Homo sapiens: one gene and its partner. The protein of the gene in region 2 purifies or fractionates together with the protein of the main gene of each other region. This does not show direct contact. Each region holds a gene or a part of one and is shown on either strand. Other genes may lie near its edges. The genes, in order: ATF1 and CREBRF.

Region 1 (5,849 bases), on a different chromosome or scaffold from region 2:
GGAAGTCTAATTTCATGTTTGGACTATAATCACTTAAAAATTTGATAAGCCCCACATTGGATTCCAATTAGAAAAACACCCAGGAAAATAATTTGTTATGCATTTATGGAACCATTAATGGTTTGCCCTGACCTGTTTCATACAGCTAGAGTAAGTAACTGGGTCTAGTTAGCAAGGCCCTACACCAGAAGTCTGAAGGCAGCAGAGTTTACAAATATTTGCAGATGTCCAGCTGTTAAGGCACTAAGAGCTAGGCTACCTCTGTTGTAAACAAGCACGGTGTCTACCCAATAATATATTATCATCTGTTGAAAAAGTCTTTTGACATAACCCAGTGACCTCATACCTCCTCATATTCTTAGGCCTAACGGGCCACCAGTTTGAGATTCTGGCTTTACACAAGGTAGTAAGTGATATAAGTAATCCCCCTGGCGATCAAACTTTTTTTTCTTTTCATAAAGTGCTGCCAAGTCAACAGAGTCCCATTTTAAAAGACCCTTCTAATGAGAAATTTCATCAGGAGGGTCAAACACAAATGTATCAGTTAAGTGAAGATTTCTACGTAGCATTAGGATAATTAACAGCATGGCCAGGAGCAAGCTTATCATTCATATACCAAGCATTATATTTTACATTCAGTAGACTATCAAATGTCCTTTAATTTCACAGACAACAATATGATGCATACTGTGTAAGAGCACACAATAGTTTTGCAGTACAATTTTAAACTGTATACAAATTGGAATATAGATGTTAAACGCTGGTGTACTGACAGTATTTTTGAATTTTAGATAAACTGCATACAAAATTTACAATGCAAATATTAGCCAATCTGAAAACGTCCCATAATATAAAAATGATACTTTGAGATGCAAATTTTACTAAACTATATAAACATTTAAAATAATCATTAAAAACTCAACATTAGAATTTATAAAGATCAGCTATAAAAATATATTGGCAGTCACTTTTCTTATAAAGGTACCACTCACTACATTACAAAATAGTCTCTAACATAAAATTGCCTTAATAACTATACTATTATAGAATCTGATAAACCTTACATTATTAAATTGATTATAAAATCTTCTTGGAAAAACTTTGGTATGTATCTTCAGAAGGTTTTTTAAAAATAATATTTTAAGGGCCTGTAAACATTCCATTCTATTAAAGCACAGCAGAATAAGTAATGGATATTCAACTGCATACAGAATATAGACTCAAAAAAACAATTTATTATGTATTTGTAGAAAATCATTACCAGAGTAAGCAAAAAAACCAACTATTTAAAAGTATCAAACTTTTAAACAGTTCTTTTTCCATTCTGATAAAAAATGTTATAAAATCACCATACTCCATTCATGTACCTTAGATGCCTTTTAGGATAAGACCTCAAAAATAATTAACCTAGTCTCAAAAATCCATTCAAGTCCAATAACAAACTTTTAAAAACCCACTTAAAAAGACTTGACACTAGAACAAGTATACATAATCAGAACATATACTTTATATATTTAGTAATGTACTAGGTTTTCTCTTACCTTTGTAATTTAGAATTTATTGGCAGAAATTACACACACACACACACATATATATAACTAAAAAAAGGTAAATTTCAGCAAACAAATGCAAACCTGTAGGGTAAATGGATTTTTAAAAAAAATTCAGTTTATCAAATTTCATCTTCTCTGCCATTTTAGATTGGCAACTATTGGTTATTTAGAAAATTTAGACTGCTGAAAGTTCATTTCTTGCTCCTTGAATATGTTTAATTTCTACAAAGCTTCCAGTTGTGCCCGTAGCTTCCTTGAGGTCATTTTCCACTTTCTCCTCTGTCACTAGATATCGTGCGTAAGATATTTATCCTTGATTTGGAAAAGCCTAAATAAAAAGCTTCAGTTTTGACCTTTTAATTTATAAAACTCCACTAGGAAATCCATTTAATTTTTATGCATGTCCACAAAAATATTTTCTTTCTTAGGAATCAAACACTTTTATTGGAATAAAGATCCTTCAAAGTTTTTAACTCTTCTATTAGAGTTTTATTTTGATTTTCCAGGACTGCAACTCGGTTTTCCAGGCATTTCACATATTCTTTCTTCTTTCTGCGACATTCTCGAGCAGCTTCTCTAAATATGAGCATTAAAAAAACAATGTTAGAAAAAACTTCACATTCTTTAAATGGTAAATGTTCTTCAGTAATTTTCCGTGGTCACCTTTTTTTCTCTTTAAAGTATCATCTACACACAGAGAATACATAGATCTTAAGTGTAGAATTCAGTCAGTTTTGGCAATTGTGTATACCTGTATAACCCACACCTCTGTCAAGACAACAGAACATTCCCACTGTCCCAGAAAGTTCCCTCATGCCCCTTCCTGGTCAGCCCCCTTCCAAGCAACTATCGTTTTGATTTTTATCACCAGAGATTAGTTTTTTTCCTATTCTAGAACCTCATGTAAGAGTGTCATACACTATGTACTCTGGTGTCCCTTCACTCAGCCCATCTGAGGTTCATCCATGTTGCTGCATGGGGGTTTGTTCCTTCACACTGCTGGACATAGTTCACTGTATGAATATAACCACCATTTGTGTATCCAGTCTCTTGCGATGTTTCTAGGGTTAGCTGCATAGGCATGTTTTTGTGCCAGTCTTTTTGTAGAAAGGTTTCATTTCTCTTGAATAAATACCAAAGAGTGAAATTATGGGTCCTCTGGTTAACTTCTGACACATGACTTCTTTTATTTAAGTTCAAATTACAAACAATGCTTGAGCAAATACTCAGTTCTGTGCATGTCCTCTTAAAACATTTCTGTGAAGTCATATGTAAGTTTATATACATATAGAAATCGGAAGTATTGGCCAGGCATGGTGGCTCATGCCTGTAATCCCAGCACTTTAAGAGGCCAAGGCGGGCAGATCACCTGAGGTCAGGAGTTCGAGACCAGCCTGGCCAACATGGCAAAACCTCATCTCTACTAAAAATACAAAAATTAGCTGTGGTGGCACATGCCTGTAATCCCAGCTACTTGGGAGTCTGACCCAGGAGGATCACTTGAAGCTGGGAGGTGGAGGTTGCAGTGAGCCAAGATCGCGCCACTGCACTCCACCCTGGGCAACAGAGCAAGACTCTGTCTCAGAAAAAGAAAGAAAGAAAGAAACAGTACTATTTTAAGATTTTTATGCTATATATGTAGATACTATTTGCAACTTGCTTTTTAGTACACATCTTTAAAAGGACTGTACAAAATCTTTCCCCTCACAAAAAGACTTTATTTTTACCTTTAAGCTCTGTTTGTTTGTTTGTTTTAAGTGGTTTCCAGTAAACATTCTTTTTCTTTTTTCTTCTTTTGTTTTGAGACAGGGTCTCACTCTGTCAACCAGGCTGAGTGCAGTGGCACAATCACAGCTCATTGCAACCTTGACCTCCTGGACTCAAGATATCCCCACTTCAGCCTCTCAAGTAGCTGGGACTACAGGTGTACACCACCACACCAGCTAATTTTATTTTTGTAGAGATGAGGTCTCAGTATGTTGCCTAGGCTGGTCTCACTCCTGGTCACGGTGTCGGGATTATGGGCATGAGCCACCCACTCAGCCTCCATTCTTTACGTGTATTTCTACACATGTATTTCTTGAAGGATCACAAGCTATATTCACTTAAAGTCAAGAGATAGTGCCAATTTATATTCATTGAAGTACAGAGAAATAAGGGGGGAAAAAAGGAAGGAAAAAAATCCCAGAGTCAAACCAGAAAGAAAAAAGGGAAAAAATGCCAGAATGTCCTCCAGAGTATTTGTACCATTTACATTCCCAGGGGCAGTACATGAGAGTGCCTGTTATGAACATTTTAAAATGGTTGTCAGTCTAGCGGCTGACAAAAAGCGAACCTCACTGCTTTAACATTTCCCTCATTATGCACAAAGTTTGGAATAATTTCATGTTTACAAGGCCATCTTTCACAGACCGGTTTCCTTCTGTTAGGTCTCTTATTTACAGAAATAAATCTTTATATAACCTATACATCTCGTAATTCTTTCTCTTTATATAAAAGTTGCAAATATTTTTCCCAGTTAACAGACTTATTTTTAAGTTTCTTTATGGTATCTTTTGTCACATACAAGTAGAAATGTTGGGGCAAGTAGATACCATAAAACTCCGTACTTCCCTCAGTAATGTATGTGAGGTACCCTTTTCCTTATATGCCCAATGACAGACAGTATTACCACTTTATAATTTTTGCTACGTGACATCTCATTTCTTATTTTTATAGTTGTAGTATATACGTATATGACCCTAAAACTGCTATCATTTATTTTCTAAAATTATAAAATATCATACTTTGTGTATTCTGTTGCAACTTGTTTTTTCATTCAATTTTTCTAAGATTTATTCATGTTGAAATGATTATTCATTCAGTCATTACAAATAAACATTCCATTCTATAAATACAGTCACAATTTATGTACCTATTCTTTTTTCCCCCCATTTTTATGTTTAGGCTCAATATGTACCTATTCTGTTATCAATGAATCTTGAGGTTGTTTCCTGATTTTTTGCTGCTATGAAAATTCTTATACATACTTCCTCCAAGTTCCTCTCAGTCACACAGACTAAAACAGCTGGGTCACAGAGTATACCCACGTCAACTGTACAAGATAAGGCCTAATTTCCAAAATGGCTGCATCAATTTACACTCCTATAGTAGTATCTATGAATTCCTGACCATTGTTCCAAATCCTTGCCAACTCTTGGTTAGACTTTAAAATTTTTGCCAATTGGGTGGGTATAAAGGGTATCTAAATGTGTAGCATTAATGTGTATTTCTTTGATTACTAATAAGGCTGAGTAGTCTTTTATATGATTATTAACTACTTGTGTGTTTTTTTTTGTTTGTTTTATTTTTGAGACAAGAGTCTTGCTCTGTTGCCCAGGCTGAAGTACAATGGCGTGATCATGGCTCACTGCAACCTCTGCCTCCAGGTTCAAGTGATTCTCCTGCCTCTACCACATCTAGCTAATGTTTTAAATTTTTTTTAGAGATGGGGTCTCCCTATATTGCCCAGGCTGGTCTCAAACTCCTGGGCTCAAGTGATCCTCCTGCCTTGGCCTCCGAAAATGCTGGGATTACACGTGTGAGCCACCACGCCTGGCCTGTATGGTTTTTTCCATTAAAATGTTTCTGTGCATATTTATGGAGCACATGAGAAAATCTGTTACATGTATATAATGTGTAGCGATCAAGTCAGGGGATTCAGGGTGTCCATCACCTGAGTATTAATAGGTTTTTGTTAAGGGTGGTCATCCTACTCTGCTATGAAACACTGAATTTATTCCTTTTATCTTACTGTGTATGGGTTTGTACCCTTTAACTCTCTTCATCCTCCTCCTTGCCCCTCACCGTTCCCAGTCTCTGTTACCTATTTTTCCATTCTCTCTTTTTTCTTGAGATAGGGTCTTGCTCTGTTGCCCAGGCTGAAGTGCAGTGGTGCGATCATGCTGCCTCAACCCCCTGGGCTCAAGCAATCCTCCCACCTCAGCCTCCCGAGTAGCTGGGATTTTAGGCACACGCCACCATGCCTGGCTAATTTTTTATCTTTTGTAGCAATGGGTATGTTGCCCAGGCTTGCATTGAACTCCTAGGCTCAAGTGATCCTCCCGCCTCGGCCTCCCAAAGTGCTGGGATTACAGGCATAAGCCACCACGCCCAGCCCTATTTTTCCACTCTCTACTTCCATGTGTTCAAATATTTTAGCTCCCACATATAAGTGAGAATGTGATATTTTTTCTTTTTGTGCCTGGCTTATTTCACTTAAGATACTGACCTTCAATTCCATCCATGTTGCTGCAA
Region 2 (7,287 bases):
TGGGATTACAGGTGTGAGCTACTGCGCCCGGCCTGATTCATCAATTTTTGTAGTACTTTGGCATGACTGACTCAGTTCTGTTAATAATGATACATAAAAACGTAATCCCTGATTATTTGATAAACTTGAATTCTTACGTATAACTTTTGCAGTAAATAAGGGTATTAGCTTATTTATCAGTTCTTCTTTTTCTTTTTTTTCTTTTTTTTTTTTTTTTGAGACGGAGTTTCGCCCTTGTCGCCCAGGCTGGAGTGCAGTGGGAAGATCTCGGCTCACTGCAATCTCCGCCTCCCGGGTTCAAGCAATTCTCCTGCCTGAGCCTCCTGAGTAGCTGGGATTACAGGCGCCCACCACCACGCCCGGCTAATTTTGTATTTTTAGTAGAGACGGGGTTTCACCATGTTGGCCAGACTGGTCTTGAACTCCTGACCTAAGGTGATCTGCCTGCCTTGGCCTCCCAAAGTGCTGGGATTACAGGCGTGAGCCACCGCGCCTGGCCTATCAATTCTTATTTTATCAGGTGGCATTGTGTTGCTTTTGGAACCCTAGCCCTTACAATGCCCTAATTAGTTTAACAGAGAAGTATAGTGAAAATAAAAATAAACACTTTTCATTGATACTTAGAATATTCCAGGCAGTTTTCACTGTTGCATCGGTTGATAAAGTCAATCAGCATTGCTTATATAATGCTCTCTTATTCTAAGAATGGCAAATAGATGCAATAGAACTTATTTGGGTATAATTCCTTCATATGACTGGTATATCAGCTTTGGGTTTTTTATATTCATAAGCATAGAAGAGGCTAAATAGCTCCCGAAGAGAGTCTGGATGCTCCATTTACCATCATTCTCTGTCATGGCAGGTGAAAGCAAGCTTTTATATAGACAATGTTCTACTTAGTTTACAGGGTGTCTACTTAGTTTACAGGGTGGATGTGTGTGGGTTCTGGGATACTAGTGTAAGAAGTAAAGGAATAACTAGCATGGTTCCTGGTGGTGGTTAAATACAAGTGACAGTGAAGTACAGTAAGTTTGTGTGTTGATTCTGTTAATATAACTCAGTTTTTAAAAGATAAAGAGAACTGAAATCACTGTTTGCTTTTAAAGCTTAATTTTCAGTCAAGATCGGCATCTATATATTTATTTAAAAAATACATATATATATATATGTTTTTTTTTTTTTTTGAGACGGAGTCTAACTGCGTTGCCCAGGTTGGAGTCCGGTGGCGTGATCCTGGCGCACTGCAACCTCCGTTTCCTGGGTTCAAGCGATTATCCTGCCCCAGCCTCCCGAGTAGCTAGGATTACAGGCGTGCACCGCTATGCTCAGCTAATTTTTGTATTTTCAGTAGAGACAAGGTTTCACCAAGTTGGCCAGGCTGGTCTTGAACTCCTAATCTTAAATGATCCGCCCGCATTGGCCTCCCAAAGAGCTGGGATTACAGGTATGAGCCACCGTGCCCCCTCTAGTTATGTGATTTTGAAATGAATTAGCAGTCGCTTGTTTCCAAGTAGGGTTGAACTTGGATTTTTTTGAGGAACAATTCACTGACACTTTCACCATATTCAGTAGCTCATTTCGGGATAGGTAAACTCTTAGACGAGACATAAATTTGTCAGATAATTGGTTCTGATTATTTTAAGACAAGGGTTGACAGACTTTTTTTTTTTTTTTGGAACAGGATCAAATAGTTAATATTTAGGCTTTTTCAGCCTTCCAGTCTCTGCCACAACTACTCAACTTTGAATCTGTAGCATGGAAACAGCTGTAGAAAATATGTTCTACATATTTTTGGGCTCTATTCCAATAAAACTTTATTTACAAGGTCAGGCTGTGCCTCTATTTGTGCTTCCACGGCTATAGTTTGTCAGCCCCTGTTGTAAGACATCAGTCATTGAGGTTTTTTGTTTGTTCGTTTTTTGAGACAGAGTCTAGTTCTGTCCCCCCTGCTGGAGTGCAGTGGCACGATCTCGGCTCACTGCAACCTCCGCCTCCCGGGTTTAAGCGATTCTCCTGCCTCAGCCTTCTGAGTAGCTGGGATTACAGGCGCCTGCCACCGTGCCCAGCCAAGTTTTGTATTTTTAGTAGAGACGGGGTTTCACTGTGTTGGCCAGGCTGGTCTCAATCTCCTGACCTCCTGATCTGCCCGCCTCAGCCTCCCAACGTGCTGGGATTACAGGCGTGAACCACCACATCTGGCCCAGTCACTGAGTTTTAAGTACTTAGATGTTAAGGTATTTCAGAATATACAAATAGACACTTTAGGTACATTTGAGCATTTGCAGATTGTACAGTCTCCTGCCTTGAAGAGAATTTTTAGTACAAGAGCATATGGCAACATTGTATTTTGTATTTTTCCTTCGTTTACATATAAATGTTTTCTTGAAAAGCTGTTTAAAGCAAATATTGGTATAAATCCTGTTGATTTTAGAGATGCAGTCTGATTGAAAAAACTTTGGCCCTAAGATATATTCAGGATATGGTCCTCTTGAAGTTTCAAAGCACATTTAGCATATAATCCTTAACAAAGCTGTATAGCTGTTTCAAGAGATGATAGTCACGTGAATAGTCAACACATGTAGTTCTTATATTCAAATATGCAGTTAATTTAGAAGTTAAGACATTGAGTGCTCATTGCCTGAGATGCTTGAAGAATTAAAGAGAGTAGGATGCTTTTTCCAGGCCCAAAAAGATACAGGTTACCTCCTCTCTTTTTCCAGGGAAAATGTCAAGTCGTGCTAAGTGCCTAGTGAAGCAGAGATGCCGTAATCTAAAAATATAACTGGGAAATACTAAATTTTTTTGATAACTTTTGCTTTATTTTTAATGTAATATTTCACCATTTTTGTTGACTTGAACTGGATTTCAAGTGGAAGCGTAAAAGTTTAGAAAAGAGAATATATTGACCTTTATGAACTGAGAAACATGTGGCCTGCAATCTTGTTTCTAGATCTAGCTAACCTAGGGTCTGCCTGGATGACTACAGATAATCTCAGTTTATTAATTTGTAGTGGTAGGGATTAATGATGTTTTCCATCTCACAAGGGGATACTGGGAAATTTTTAGTTACTGTATTCTTAAAGTCTTGTACTTTGAATATGCTAATATTTCGGTCTGCTTGAAACCACTTCTCAAATCTGGATTCGATTTTCTCCTGGCTTATTTGTCTTCCCATTAAACTATGAGCTCCTTGAGGTCAGAGTCTGTGTTTTATTTCTATATATTCACTGCCTCACACTGTGCCTGATACCTTTTAGTGCTCTTGAACTGTTTAAATGAATGCATGCATTGCTGAGAACTGCTTATCTGGAAAGTAATAAAGTCTACTATTAGAGATGTTGGGCTTTTCTTAGTTAGAAAGGAGGAATTAATCACCGTCTGTTCAAACAAAAAGCCTTCATTCTAAAATTGATCCGTTCTTTTAAGAAAGTTTTTAGAGAAGCTATTTTGATGATGTTTAAAAATCTCTTTAGTTCCTTTGTTAATTTGTTTTCAGATGAACTCCATTAGTTAGACTTGTTGAATATTCCTTGCAGGTATTAAAAAAAAAAAGTTGTGCTTTGTTCTTTGGATTTGTCCTATTTGGCAAATGTGGATGGAATCTCTTATTTCATACAGGTTTGGGATAATTTTTCATCTACATAGTAGGGTCTTTTTTTAAGGAGGGCACTGTAAAATCATTCTTTTTTTTTTTTTTTTTTGAGACGGAGTCTTGCTCTGTCGCCCAGGCTGGAGTGCAGTGGTGGGATCTCGCCTCACTGCAAGCTCTGCCTCCCGGGTTCACGCCATTCTCCTGCCTCAGCCTCCCAAGTAGCTGGGACTACAGGCGCCCGCCACTACGCCCGGCTAATTTTTTGTATTTTTAGTAGAGACGGGGTTTCACCGTTTTAGCCGGGATGGTCTCGATCTCCTGACCTCGTGATCCGCCCGCCTCGGCCTCCCAAAGTGCTGGGATTACAGGTGTGAGCCACCGCGCCCAGCCTGTAAAATCATTCTTGCTAATAAGTCTGACTCACCTCTGTGGGGTAGGCTAGGATTTGGATCGAGTTTGACGCAGGGTGCGGCAGTAGTATCACCAGCCAAGCCTTATATGCATTTCACCAATTTATGACCTTTCCTCCAAAATCTATATTGTAACTCTCCTTCCTAAACAGCTTTCTAAACTACTGCTTTCCGTACTTAACTCTTGGCAACATAAATCATCCTACACTCTGTCCTTTCAACACCAAAACCACTTTTATATCTTTTGGGTATTACTGATTTTGAGAATTTCCTATGAAAGCCTCACAAATTTCCTGATTTCTTCTTCTCTATTTTTTTTGAGACAGAGTCTCACGCTGTTGCCCACGCTGGAGTGCAGTGGCGCCATCTCGGCTCACTGCAACCTCTGCCTCCTGGGTTCAAGCGATTTTCCTGTCTCAGCCTCCTGAGTAGCTGGTATTACAGGAGCACGTCACCACACTCAGCTAATTTTTTGTATTTTTAGTAGAGGTGGGGTTTCGCCATGTTGGCCAGGCTGGTCTTGAACTCCTGACCTCAGGTGATCCACCTGCCTTGGCCTCTCAAAGTGCTGGGATTACAGGCGTGAGCCACCACACCTGGCCTGCTGATTTCTTTTTCTTAATTTTTAATTTCTTGATTAAAAAGAATTTTTGTTCTTTTTGACTTTTTTTTTTTGAGGCGAGTCTTGCTCTGTCACCCAGGCTGGAGTGCAGTGGTGTAATCTCTGCCCCTGCGACCTTCGCATCCTGGGTTCAAGCAATTCTCCTGCCTCAGCCTCCCAAGTAGCTGGGACTACAGGCACCTGCCACCATGCCCGGCTAATTTTTATATTTTTAGTAGAGACAGAGTTTCACCATGTTGGCCAGGCTGGTCTTGAACTCCTGACCTCAAGCGATCTGCCTGCCTTGGCCTCCCAAAGTGCTGGGATTACAGGCGTGAGCCAATGCACTGGCCTAAAGTTTTTTTTCTTAAAGACTAGTGTGATAGTAAAGCTTGCTGTTTTTTTTGTCCTCCAGTTTTTTTTTAGATTCTTGTTGTACATATGTTTTCTTCAGTATAATATTTTGTCCTGAGGGTTTGAGGTGCTCCTTTTATAAAAGCAGTTTCTTTTTTGGCTGCTGATGGAATTGCTGCCTTTTCTATTATAGGTTAGTCATTTACTGAGAAATTTAAAGCATTACAAAAATAAAACGTTGATATGGGGAGGAATTAGGGGTAGGGTGGGTGTACTTTTGAAAAGATTCATTGTAGAATTCCTTAAAACAGCAAGGCTTCTAGCATCCTAGTGGTATGGTATAAATGAGGTGGACTCATGCAGTTTTTGTTGTTGTTGTTTGAGACAGGTCTTGCTCTGTCACCCAGGCTGAAGTGCAGGGGCACGATCACGGCTCACTGCAGCCTTGACTTTCCAGGCTCAAGCAGTCCTCCTGCCTCAGCCTCCTGAGCCTCCTGACTATCTGGGACTACAGGTGCGCACCACCACACCTGGTTAATTTTTTTTTTTTTTTTTTTTTTTTGAGACAGAGTCTCGCTCTGTCGCCCAGGCGGAGTGCAATGGCACAATCTCGGCTTACTGCAACCTCCACCTCCCGGGTTCAAGCGATTCTCCTGCCTCAGCCTTCCAAGTAGCTGGGATTACAGGGATGTGCCACCATGCCCAGCTAATTTTGTATTTTTAGTAGAGTCGAGGTTTCTCCATGTTGGTCAGGCTGGTCTTGAACTCCCCACCCCAGGTGATCTGCCTGCCTTGGCCTCCCAAAGTGCTGGGATTACAGGTGTGAGCCACTGCGCCTGGCCCACCTGGCTAATTTAAAAAATTATTTGTAGAGAGAGAGTTTTACTATGTTTCCCAGGCTGGTCTTGAACTCCTGAACTCAAGTGACCCTCCTGCCTCAGCCTCCCAAAGTGTTGGGGTTACAGGTGTGAGCCACTGTACCTAGCTGTACAGTTTTTGAACTGCTTTTTAGTAAGGTTTTCATCTTTACCTTTGAATCCTCTACTAGAGTTGCCCATAGACTAGGAGAGGAGACACACATTGCAGCCCAATGTTACGATGGTTTTTCAGAACAAAATGTTCTGAAATATGGAAGAAGGACTGCTAACTCTGCCTGGGGAAAGTTGAATATTCATTGAAAAAGTGGTGTTTGAACTTAGTTTTGAAGATTAGTGAAGGAGGCATTCTAGTACAGCTGAAGTATAAAAGATGTGTAGTGTGGGGTTGGGTATGAGATGGTTTGAGCTAAGGCAGAGGTGGGAGGGAGAATGGAAGAGGAGGAAACTGATGTGTAAGATTTAGGAGGAAATAGCTTTTTTTGCTTTCACTTTGTCCTCTAATTCTCTTCAGTCTGTTCTATGCTGTCAGGTCTCCAGTCTCTTTTCCCTGTAGCTCCCTGTACCTCTGACTTTGGTTGATTGGTTTTTTCCCCTAGTGTTCCATTTTTCTTTTAGTCCCACCTTTTCTAATGTGTTGGTACTAAAGTACCTTTCATTCTGACTCTATTTGTCTCTTGCGTTTATTTCACCTCCCACCCTCCCTCCCTCTCTCTCTTTATTCCCTTTGGGTTATATTTCTTTCCTTTTCTTTTCCTTTTTCTTCTTCTTCTTTTTTTTTTTTTTTAAAGACAGGATGGTGCAGTGGCACAGTCATGGTTCACTGCAGCCTTGACCTGGGGCTCAAGTGATCCTCCCACCTCAGCCTCACGAGTAGCTGAGACTACAGGTGTGTGCCACCATGCCCAGCTAATTTTTTTTGTAGAGACAGGGTTTCCCCACATTGCCCAGGCTGGTCTTAAACTCCAGGGCTCAAGCCACCCACCCACCTTGGCGTCCCAAAATGTGCGATTACAGGCGTGACCAACCGCACCTGGCCCCTTTGGGTTTCTCTTTGCCCCTACCTTTCCTTTTTATTTGCTTTATTTTATTTTTTATTTTTTTTGAGATGGGGTTTTGCTGTGTTGCCCAAGCTGGCCTCAAACTCCCGGTGTCAAACAATCCCATCTCAGCCTCCTGAGTAGCTCAGGCTGCAGGCGTGTGCCACCTCTCATTATCTTTTATTTAAAAGCAAAACAAAATAAATTCTTGCGCACTATCTGCTTATTTTACATGTAAATAGCAAAATAAGCTGATTCCCTCTTGGGAAATCTTGTAAGATCAACTAGCTTTTGATACCTGTTCAAAGACTAATTATCCATTTCTGTGAATTTCTTTTTATGAAACATTTTCCTTTGTATTCAAAGATGCTACTTCTTCAAAGGCCACAGTGTAGAATGTGACTGCCTATGTGCC

Evidence for each region.
Region 1: the proteins of CREBRF (region 2) and ATF1 purify together in Homo sapiens (affinity purification with mass spectrometry; 2 studies listed by BioGRID and IntAct, with this or other methods). This does not show direct contact.

The regions. Positions count from the first base shown.
Region 1 is NC_000012.12:50,815,915-50,821,763, reverse strand, and holds the end of ATF1 (cyclic AMP-dependent transcription factor ATF-1), read right to left. Parts: exon of another isoform or gene 5,824-5,849; intron 2,130-5,823; coding exon 1,985-2,129; 3' UTR 602-1,984; downstream 1-601.
Region 2 is NC_000005.10:173,059,065-173,066,351, forward strand, and holds part of CREBRF (CREB3 regulatory factor), read left to right. Parts: intron 1-1,348; exon of another isoform or gene 1,349-1,444; intron 1,445-7,287. UniProt on the Homo sapiens protein: Acts as a negative regulator of the endoplasmic reticulum stress response or unfolded protein response (UPR). Represses the transcriptional activity of CREB3 during the UPR. Recruits CREB3 into nuclear foci.